2 separate regions of the Homo sapiens genome follow, and region 2 is linked to region 1. The links come from fine-mapping of genetic effects on gene expression. A gene starts in region 1. The other region holds a variant in brackets. All regions are shown on one strand. Distances are from middle to middle. Region 1 holds the start of SURF2 (surfeit 2). Region 2 overlaps ADAMTS13 (ADAM metallopeptidase with thrombospondin type 1 motif 13).

Evidence for each region. PIP is the estimated chance that this variant, and not a neighbour inherited with it, causes the effect.
Region 2: its variant is fine-mapped to the expression of SURF2 in visceral fat (GTEx, PIP 0.97).

Annotation. Positions count from the first base shown.
Region 1 is chr9:133,354,143-133,359,505 of GRCh38, reverse strand. It overlaps SURF2 (surfeit 2), which reads right to left and starts at 2,956. Exons shown (of 6, transcript NM_017503.5): 1 at 2,836-2,956; 2 at 2,438-2,592; 3 at 1,692-1,795. The coding sequence starts at 2,913. It overlaps SURF1 (SURF1 cytochrome c oxidase assembly factor), which reads left to right and starts at 3,019. Exons shown (of 9, transcript NM_003172.4): 1 at 3,019-3,106; 2 at 3,186-3,237; 3 at 4,549-4,682; 4 at 4,765-4,847. The coding sequence starts at 3,053. RefSeq lists silencers at 2,788-2,857, 3,098-3,217.
Region 2 is chr9:133,438,951-133,444,313 of GRCh38, reverse strand. ADAMTS13 (ADAM metallopeptidase with thrombospondin type 1 motif 13) reads right to left here. Exons shown (of 29, transcript NM_139027.6): 15 at 4,868-4,948; 16 at 3,789-3,970; 17 at 1,780-1,915; 18 at 1,571-1,700; 19 at 753-938. Among named protein-coding and RNA genes, the nearest start is that of CACFD1, 18 kb to the left of the region's middle. The variant G/C (reference allele first, on the strand shown) is at 2,904.

The DNA.
Region 1 (5,363 bases):
TGCCTGGCCTTTGCTGCCCCTTAGTGGGTGAGAAGGGAGTTGGGACAAGGCTTCCATGGAAAGACCTCACTGGAGTCACCACCGTTGTCCCCTTGTATATTGGAGGGTCTGCTGGGGCTTGCCCTCCAGCCCAGCGCAGCTACCATCATCATCCCTCATGGGCTGCATGAGCCCTGCTGGGCCCTGGCCATTGATGTGGCGGCCCATCTCCAGGGCTGTTTCCCTCCTTGTCTCTGCCACCCACCCCCATGGCCATGCAGCAGCCTTGTCACCACCAGAACGTGAAGGCAGAGCCCCCTTACAGCCACGTTTGGACTTCCCTGGACCACTGCCTTGCAGTGACCTCGGCGCCCCAGTCCCATCTCAGCTCCACAGTCCACCATCATAACCATTCTTCATGGGAACCCCGTGGCCCCCTGCACTTAGAGCCTTCCTGCCCACCCCTGAGCAGCTAACACACTGGCTGGAAAAAGTCCAAGCCTCAGGCTGGCAGCCCTTGTGCCTGCAAGGCCTCTGCAAGGTGCCCGCCTTCTACTTGAGAAACCCTGGTCCTGCCTTCTCAATCCACACTCATGCTTCGGGAGGGCTGGACTGCCTCTCCGCACTCATCAGAAGCCCGTAGACGCATCTTCCCATCCGCAAACCAACCTGAATCTGTCCGCTCCAGCCTCTGTCCATTTCCCTCCTTAGCTGGACTCCAGAAAGGCTTTCTGGTGACCCAGCACCTGCCTAAGGCCGGACACTGCCCTCATGGGCTGCAGCCTACGCTCCACTCTAGCCAGGTGTCCCTGCCAAGCTTCAGGTGCCTCACCAAGGTTGCCAGGGGCCTCTGTGTTATCAAATCTATCATTTTTCTGTCCTCATCTTCCCTTCAGTACCACGGGAGGACTTCCAGCCTCTTCCTGGGGCTCAGGACCAGGCCTCTCTCCCTTCTCTAAACTCTCGCCGGGTGCTCACCCAGATCCACGGTGCAACCATCTCCTTCATCCAGCACGGGTGTCCCTGTTTCAAAAGCCCGATACTTCCCTAATACACACCTTTCCTAATACAGCTCAAGCTTAAAACCTTCAAAGGGACTCTGAATTCTCCCCCCAAAACCCACCGTCTTTTCCTGGATGACCGCAGTCAAGGAGTCCTCCCTTCTCAACCATGCACACTGTCCATGCAGCCCCCACCCAACCCTCTCCACACACCCACTGCAGTGCTCCTGGCCTGGTCTCTGGGTCATCCGGGCTGTGCACACTAGCCCAGCCAGTCCTTTGGAGCCTACCTCAGCCAACACATTTTTGCCTCAGACTTCCATGGACCCTGGCTTCTCCCTGGGGTGCTGTTCCCCCGACCCCACTGCCACCACATCCCTCCAGCCTCAGCCTCGAGCGAATCCCTCAGCGAGTCTCCCCAGCCCTCCTGTCTCCGCAAGCCCACCCCACATCCCTCGCCCAGTTTCTTTCACACCTCGCATTGCCACGCACACTCACTCACTCCCGAGCCTGCTTCTGGCTCTGTGCCTGCCTGCACTAAAAGCTGTGGGGTCAGGGGCCATCATCCCTCTCTTCACTGTGCCAAAAAACAGGCCTGATGCATCAACACGGATCGCTGAAGGACGACCTGCCTTCAAGCACGCTCCATCTGGGGCAAGGCGGGCATGCACTCAGATGGCGATGCACTGATGGGGGTCCACTGGGACTTACATTTACACAGAGCTCGCTGGTACCGCCGGCCCTGGGTGTGCCTCAGCACGTGTTCTGGGCACTTGTTGATGTGCCGCAGGGTGAGTTTGCAGAACAACTGGTGCCTACAGAGCAGAGAGACCAAATTTGTAGGGACAGTTCACAGCAAGGATTCAGACTGGTGGCTGTGTCTTGGACTCATCCCTGGACAGTCTACCATGCGGCTTGGACATCGGGCTTTTAAAGGCTCCCGGAGCAATTCCACTCTGAAGCTGGGTGGGGAACCGTCTGACCCAGGCCGACTGCAGCCTCTTAATGTTTACCGGAAAAGCACGCATGGCAGCCTCACTGACTGCTCCAGGATGAGTTCATGCAAGAGGATGGCTCCACCTGGAGCAAGGGCTCAATGAATGGAAACATCCTATCTCTGTTTTGACGATTATTACAAAGCCTAGCTCCCAGCTAAATCAAAGACCCCTTCTGGGGTTAAGGGAAGAACCCAACGCTGTTCACAACCTCAGGTGACAAATCACAAGCCTCTACTCATCTGGGAAGCAGCCACACCCCACAGGACAAACCTCAGGTGAGCAAACGAGCTCACCAAGAGGCCTCGCCGCTGGGACCGCAGGTGATTCCAGCACCCGGGCGCCCACCTGGGTCCCAGGGCTCCCAACTCTGAAAGAGTAGGGGCTGCAGCACTGGCGGAGTCCAGCGGAGGGGCTGTCCTAATTGCCCTGGGCCTCCCCGCGCCGCCGCGGACCACCTACGGGTTCTTGGTGCTGGGCACGATGTGCGGCTCGAACTCTGCATAGTCGAAGGCCGGGGAGGCGCGGACCAGCCGCTGGTACTTTTTGCCGCGGGTGTAGACCTGGAGCTCCGGCAGGCGGCAGGGCAGCTCGTGACCTGTCAGGATGCACCTCACCTGCGGACGCGTGGGCGGGCAGGACGTCAGGAGGGCCAGGGCTCCGCTCCCTGGTGCCCCCTCCTGCCGCGCCCCCTTCCCTCTCCTCCCCTGATCCCGCCGCGCCCTCTCCCCTGCCCTCCCCTCTCTCCTGCTCTCCCCTCTCCCCTCTCCCCTGCCCTCTCCTCTCCCCTGCCCTCCCCTCAGCCCCTCATCCCAACTGCGCCCTTCTCCGCCACTCCGTTCCCCTCCCGCGCTGCGAACCTTGCGGGCGTCCGTCTGGAGCCGCAGGCTCGGGTGCTCCCGCAGAAACGCCCGCACGTCGCCCGGCAACTCGCTCATGGCCGACGCGCCCGCGGAGCAGCCCGGCGGAAGCCGCTCGCAGAACCTGGAGCCGGGGGCGGGGCTCTGGGCGGGACTCAGCGGCGCCCCGGATGCAGATGCTTCCTGCGTCCCGGAAGCGCCCGCGGGGCCGGGTGCGATGGCGGCGGTGGCTGCGTTGCAGCTGGGGCTGCGGGCGGCGGGGCTGGGACGGGTGAGCGCCGGGTGCGGGGTGCGGGGTGCGGGGCGCGGGGAGGGGTCCCGGAGCTCAGCCCGCCCGTCCGTGTCCGCAGGCCCCGGCCAGCGCCGCCTGGAGGAGCGTCCTCAGGGTCTCCCCGCGCCCAGGTGAGGGCTGCAGGCCGGGCTGTGATCCAGGCGCCTGGGCAGAGCCACCTGCTGTCTGCCCTGCACTTTGAAGGGTTGTCGTGGGGATTGAAATGAACCAACTGCCGGCTGAGCGGAGGCTCCCTGGGAGTGACAAGTTCCGTATTAAAATGCTTTCAGTGGAATTGTGGTCGTGTGCCGGGCATGTAGCGAGCGCTTTGTCCTCACAACGCGAGAGGTAGCTCCTTGGTCGTTCCCCTGTTACAGAGAAGGCTCGAGAGTTACTTCCGAACGTCCCATCCAGCTAATGGGTGGCCAGCCCAGGCTGAAAGCCCAGGGCTCTGAAAGTAAAGCGTATCTAACCACCGCGGCTTACGTGTTCCTCTCAGTGTGCAGCACAGGGCTGTTTTGCCGTGTGTAGAGTGCTGTGCAAGCCTGCCCCAGGCCTGCCTTTTTATAAAAAAAAAAAAAAAAATAGTATCCGCAAGGCCCCTGGTGCTTTTCAGCGGATGGAACTCATCCTCTGAGAGCTTAAAGGCACTTTCTGTGTACATTCTTCCCTCTTTACATTTACGATGAGTTGTAAAAATGGAAAGCTGTTAAGAGAGCTCTGTGAGCCATTACTGAATTGATATATTTTTCTACATAACACAACAACCACTAGTGCCTGACTAAGCTACTTAGTAACTGTAGCTGCTTATTTTTTATTTTTTGAGACAGTTTCGCTCTTGTTGCCCAGGCTGGAGTGCAGTGGCGCAATCTCGGCTTACAGCAACCACCTCCTCCCAGGTTCAAGCGATTCTCCTGCCTCAGCCTCCCGAGTAGCTGGGATTACAGAAGCACCATCGTGCTCAGCTAATTTTTGCATTTTTTTGTAGAGATGGGGTTTCTGCATGTTGGTCAGGCTGGTCTCGAACTCCTGATCTCGTGATCCGCCCGCCTTGGCCTCCCAAAGTGCTGGGATTACAGGCGTGAGCCACCGTGCCCGGCCAACTGTAGCTGCTTATTAAATGCATTTTGAATGGATGAATGGTGCATCTTAGTGCAGTGGAATACATCTAGATTCTTGAGTAAAAAGGCATGAGTTACTCAGGGTCGTGGTTGGTGGTCAAACCGGCACTGAGCCCTAGATCCCACTTACTCACTTGGCAGACGTACTGTGTGTGCCTTGTTCTGGGCACCGGGTTAGGAGCTGGGCTGGATACAGGTGCTGCTAGTTGGCTCTAGGCAGCAGGTTTTGATTGGCAGTACTGGAGTCTGTCTTGGAACGGGCTGCTCCAGGTCTGTGTTCGAGGGCTTCTGGCTCCATGTCAGTGTTGTGAAACTCTCCAGGGGTGGCCTGGAGGCCAAGCAGATGTGGCAGTTCTGCAGCAGAAGCATCTGCCACAAAAGCGGAAGATGACTCCTTTCTTCAGTGGGTCCTGCTCCTCATCCCTGTGACTGCCTTTGGCTTGGGGACATGGCAGGTAAAGACCGGCATCTGGTGTGCGTAACTCTGGGCCCTTGACCTTGCTGCCATCTGCTTGGCCTTATGCTCTGTCACTGTAGGTCCAGCGTCGGAAGTGGAAGCTGAACCTGATTGCAGAGTTGGAGTCCAGAGTTCTGGCTGAGCCTGTCCCTCTGCCAGCCGAGTGAGTGCATGGCTGCCCCCCTAGGGCCTGTTTTACTTGAGTTCAACAGCAGAGCCCTGGCTTCTGCTGGCCAGCTTGCCCCTTTTGGTGGGACTTTTAGTCACTGCCTTGACCTCAGGTGGGAGCTCTCATTATCAGTCATCTGTTGGGCTTGCTGTTGACACCTGACTGCCCTTGTGAAGCTACCTGAGACCGCCTCCTGACATATGGAGGAAAGTCTTATTTTGAGTCCTGGGTGTCACCCTTTTTTCAGGTATAGTAAACTTATCCTCCACAGGGCCCAAGGCCCTGTGGCTGAGGACAGATAATGTAGGTCTCACCGTGAGGGTGGTCGTTTGAAAAAGTGCCCTGAATGATTTGTCTGCTCTCTCCCTAGAATATGCCCTACAGAGATAGGTATATTCAGCCACATTTTCCATTCAGGGTAGCAAACAGTATGCCAGATTTGGCTTGCAGATGGGGTTTTGGCCCACATATTTTTTAAAATTTCACATAAAATATTCATTGAGGAGTCCA
Region 2 (5,363 bases), 85 kb before region 1:
CTCCAGCCAGGTAATCACTGACTCCATGCACCATAGCAGGTGCAGAGAAACAGGTGCCACATGGAATTGGATCACCAGGTTCAAGGGTGGCCAATGGGTTTCAGCTGTGAGTCAGCCCTGCGCTAAAGTGGCTGCCTGGAGAGCTGTGTGAGAAGGATTCTGAGGCCCTATCTGGCCTCAGCGGGGAAGAGTGGTGACTGTTTTGTCTGCCACGGATGACGAGGCGGGGAAAGGAGTCCAGAGCTATGAGTGGGCCACCAACAATCCAGACCAATCCCCTCCCACCGGACAGGTCGCAAAACTGAAGCCCACAGAGGAGGGGACTTGCCCTGTCACTCAGCTCGTTAGTGGCAGGGCAGGATGATAAGCCACTGTCAACTTGGACACTGAGGGGATGAGATGCAGCCACGTGGGCACGGGGGAGATGGTGGTGATGAGAAAGTGACATCTCCCACTCCGTTCAGTTTGACCTCATCCTCGAAGCCCCCCCTCCCCAGGCAGGTCGGCATCCCCATTTCAGAGCAGGGGCTCGGAAGCTCAGAGAGGGAAACAATGGGCCCAGGCTCTCCTGGGTAGTAAGGAACTCTGACAGCAGCACTTACAACCGCCAGGTGACACTGCCCATCACCCTGGATGGTGAGGCCCCGCCGGAGGCCTCAGGAGGAGGGGATTCTCAGAAGGATGGGGGCTCAGCGCAGGGACGAGCTCTGCCAGGAAGGCCCTCTCCCAGCCCCACCTAGCCCTGGGCTCACCTGGCAGGGCAGGGCTGGGGGTTGCAGGTTTCCAGCGCCACAGCTGGCTGCTGGGCCCCTGCTCTGCACCGGGCTGGGGGCAATGTCTTCAGGAGGCTGCCCTGGGCCTCCACGCAGCGCACTGGCCGCTCCCGCAGGCCACCCCCACAGGAGGCGCTGCATGGGCCGAAGTCTCCCACCGCCCAGCTGAGGAAGGAGACAGAGCGTCGGGACCCTGGCCAGGTCCCAGGCTGGCCTGGGGTGATGGGGTGGCAGGTGCTGATGTACTCCCCCGGTCTGGGACAAGCAATGGGCACTACGGCCAGCCTAGCCTCTCCAGGTGTTCCCAGGCTGCCAGACGGCTGAGCCTGAGGACAACCGAATCACAGGCTGGTGAGCAGCTGCCCTGTCCTGCACCCAGCAGGAATGGCCTCGTCCCTAACAGTGTGCCCCGTCAGGTGTGGTGACAGCCAGGGGCTTTGCACCAGGAGCTCCGCAAGTCTCCCTACAACCCTCCAGGTAGGCAATCACCTCCATCTCACCATGAGTACCTGAGCTCAAGAGAGGCCTCGGTGGCCCAGACAAGGTGGCAGCAGGTGTGGGTCCCACTGGGCTGACATTGTCACCATGTCTGCCCCAAGCCTCAGTGTCCTCACCTGCAGAATGGGGGCACTCACAGAGCCCCCCTTGCAGGGCTGTGGGCAGGGGTAATGAGAGCCTGCACAGGAGCAGCTCAGCCCGGCCCTGCCACATGGGCCCCATAGGCCAGGGACAGAGCCCAGCAGCCCCAGCGGAACCCTCTCTCCCCCTTGGAGCTGCGCAGACAGCACCACACTCACTAGGGAGGGCAGGGTTCGAGCACGCAGGCCTCTGGCCACGCTGGTGGCTGCTGGCTCCCTTGGCACTGGACAGTCTCCACCAACTCCTTCCTGGCCTGGTCCAGGCAGCTGTAGTTTACCCAGCGCAGCCCTGGGAGGGAAGAGGGAGGGCTAGGCCGCCTCCCTGCAGGGGCAAGCCGTGCTGTGGATGAGCCTTCCCCAGGTCTCACCTGCCCCACAGCTCACCGAGCAGGGCCCACGCACAGCGGCCCACACCCAGGCCTGCCGTGGCTTAGGCTGGAAGTAGGTGAAGGTGATGTCTGGGCGGGTGAGGTTGCCATACTCCTCGCCATACCGCCTGTAAACCTGCAGACAAAGAGCTTCAGGCCTTGTCCAGTGGGTTCCCTGAGGGTCACTGTCATGGCCACCTCCCCTGGGAAGCCTTCCAACTTCTTCTTGCATCCCTATAATCTTTCGTTCAGCAAGCAATCACTGGCCAGGCACGGTAGCTCATGCCTGTAAACCCAAAACTTTGGGAGCCTGAGGCAGGCAGATCACTTGAGCCCAGGAGTTTCAGAGCAGCCTGGGCAACATAGCACTCCAGCCTGGCCAACAGTGAGACCCTCTCTAAAAAAACAACAAAGACAAAAATAACGGGAAGCAATCACCAACACTGACCTGTACCAGGCTCTGGGGATAGCACAGTGCACAGGACACTGGCTGAGCTGCAAGGAGCTCTCAGTGGGTTGGGATAGAGGGCTCGGGGAGGTAATTACCAAGTCATTGGTGGGTTACATGATAGGGTATTTGGGCAGCACAGAGAAGGTTCCCTAAGCTGGCTGGGTAGAGGATAAAGTGCAGTGGAGGAGGCAGGCCCACCTTAGGCTGGGCTAAGGAGCCCAAGAAGGGCTAGGGCAGGGCCAGCACAGAAAGTGCTTCTGGAGCCAGAGCTGAGGCCCGTAGGGTCGGCAGGAAGAAACTGGATCCCTGGGGACCTGTGGTAGGGTCGGCAGGAAGAAACTGGATCCCTGGGGACCTGTGGCCAGCTACTGGCTTGGGACTGGCCCGGAGAGCACTAGGAAGAACTTCAGCAGGTTCCTGGGCCTAAGGCTCTTCAGGAGGGTAACTGGGTCCTGTGCCCAAGACCAGCCCAAGAAAGAGGCCAGCCTGGAGGCCAGAGCCCAGGGCGAGGTGACATTCCGCACCTGCCCCCTCGATGCCCACATCTGGCCAGTGCCGCAAGCCTGTGTTGGTTACGGTGCGGTTTCTCAGGCCCAACACAGGGAAGTCCTGATTCAGGGAATATGCAGAGGACCCGGGAATCTGCTTTTTTACACACTGCAGAGGATGATGG[G/C]AGAGCCACTCGGCAGCTAGCATCTGGATACAATGTCCCAGGCAAGGGGAGGGGAGGAAGGGAACCATATCAGGGGAAGAGAAGGGATAAGCCGCTCACAGGGGCTTGCTTTGGCCCGGCCTGGCCTGATCTGTGGGAGGCCCTCCTGTCTCTGGCTGCTGTAGGGGCAGAGGACGCTGCTCCGGCCGCTGAGACTGGGCCCCTCTCCCAAGGTTCTCAGGTCTGTTTCAGCCTGCGCTTATGTCTCTCCACCCTCCACGTGCCTTCCTCAGCGAAGCACCAATGGGGACATACATGGGCGAGCACACGTCACTGAGGACACGCCTGAACAAGGCCTTCCGGTTCCCACACACACTGCACCAAAGAAGCAGTGAGAGCCAGCATCTGTTCTCAGCTTCCTCAGCACCAAGGCCTACTCCCCAGATGCCACTGCACCTGCGTCCATGCCTTCATCTCCCCACAAACCCACACAGTAGGACCTTCCTTCATCCCTCCCACACTGACACTGTTCCCTCAGCCATACGCTTCCTTCCCTGCTTGGCCCAGCAACATCTGCTCATCTGACACCTCAGCTCCATCACTCTTTCCCAGGGAGCCCTGGACCCCTGCATTGGGCCCTCCAACCTTACCTGATCCCAGAACTGCAGGGCCTTCTCCCACGGGCTCTGGGCACAGGCACATTTGGATATTTGTGGGACCCTAAGCCCCTGGAGGAGCTAGCTACATTTTGCCTAGCACAGGGCCCAACACATAGTGGGTCCCCTGTAAGTGACCGCTGAATGAATAAATGAACGAATCAGGGAATGGATGGATAGACAAACGAGCAAGCAGCCATAGCCCCCAAGAAGAAGCCCCCACTGGCCTCCCCCAGGCTCTCCTGCTGACCTGGATGTCAGCATCTTCCTGGAGGGGTCCCCAGATGCGGATCTCCTCCAGGCGGGGCAGCCGGTCCTCGGTGAGGGCCACTCTGTACTCGACACGACCATCCTCCAGGAGGGAGGGGTAGGTGGTGTTAGGGGAGATGCTCATCTTCCCAGCCACGACATAGCGCCCTCCGATCCTCACCGCTGTCGGGGAACCAGCCCTGTTAGCTGTGTGGAGCTGAGCACCCATCCTCCTCACAGGCACATGTCAGTGACTCTCCTTCCCGGGGTCCCCAGCCCTCCTCTAAGGAGCCACAGGCATCTGAGCTAGAGGCTTCCCCACAGCGGAGGCTCTAGGCCTCTTTCCACAACCTGGTGAGTGCTATGACCAAGTGCACTCACGCACAGAACTCAACAGGCTCAGGGCTCAGGGACCCCATGGCAAGTGCCGGCAACCAAGGCTTCAAAGGTTAGGTGCAGACACACTCCAGAAAGACCCACTGTGGCCCTCAATAGCAAAGAAGCGGGCCTTGCCCAAAGAGAAGTCCAGCTTTTGCTGTTGGCTTCCAAGAGGAAACACGGGTCACACCAGGCAGAAGTGTCCTCCTTTAGGGCAGGGGCTGGCTGTACCAGAAAGACCAACTATGTGATTTAGGATAGGGGCTGGGTCACCAAGAGACTGAGAGTATCCACCTGGCCAATTAGTCAATCATGTCTTTGCACTCAAACCCCAGGAAAAACTCTCAACTCCCACTCAGTGGGCTTTCTGTGTGGGCAATACTCCATGCGTATGGCCACGCTCCAATGCTAGAAGGGTGTCACATCCCTGAGACATCAGGCCTCCTGGTTGGACCCTCCCAGACTCTGCCTACATCTCTTCCCTTGGACAATTCTAACCTGTGTTCTTCTGGAAGGAGCCGCAGCCATGTGCCACAGCTCTCAGTGAGCTCTGGGAGTCTTCCTAGTCAACTATCAAGCCTGAGGGTGGTTTGGGGAACCCCCTGAACTTGCGGGTGATGTCAGAAGTGAGGGCATCTTGGCAACAGTGCTCTGCACCTTTGCAGTCTAGCTAACTGGGTGGGAGTCCTCCAGTCAACTCACCCAAGTGTGTGAAGAGAGGCCTGTGGTTGGCAATGTAGACACTGGTCAGGTTGGGGGTAACTGTCAGAAACGTGACATATTCTAGAAAGAAGAAAAGAAGGAGAGATGCGTGGACCTCACAGCCACCACACCACAGACAAAGGGAGCTGATCTTAGCTGGTCGGGAAAAATTGAACAATGCCATGGGGCTGGCTCCAGCAGCAGTGAGTCCCCTGTCATGGGGGCAATTAAAAGCAGGCTGGAGGACCACCTGCCAAGGCTCTGCCCTGGCTGGGAGAAGGGACCGGGTCCAAGGTTCTCCAGCACAGTGGGGCAAGCCAGAGGGAGGCAGGGCTCAAGTCTCTGCTCTCCATAGAAGCACTGGCATTTGCAAATGGTTTTTGACCTCATATATACACCAAAGTCAAAGATTTTCCAAATGTAACTACCAACCCTCTCATTCACTTGTGTCCCTCTCAGTGGGATTTCTTGAGCAGGAGAGAAGAGGGTAGCTGCC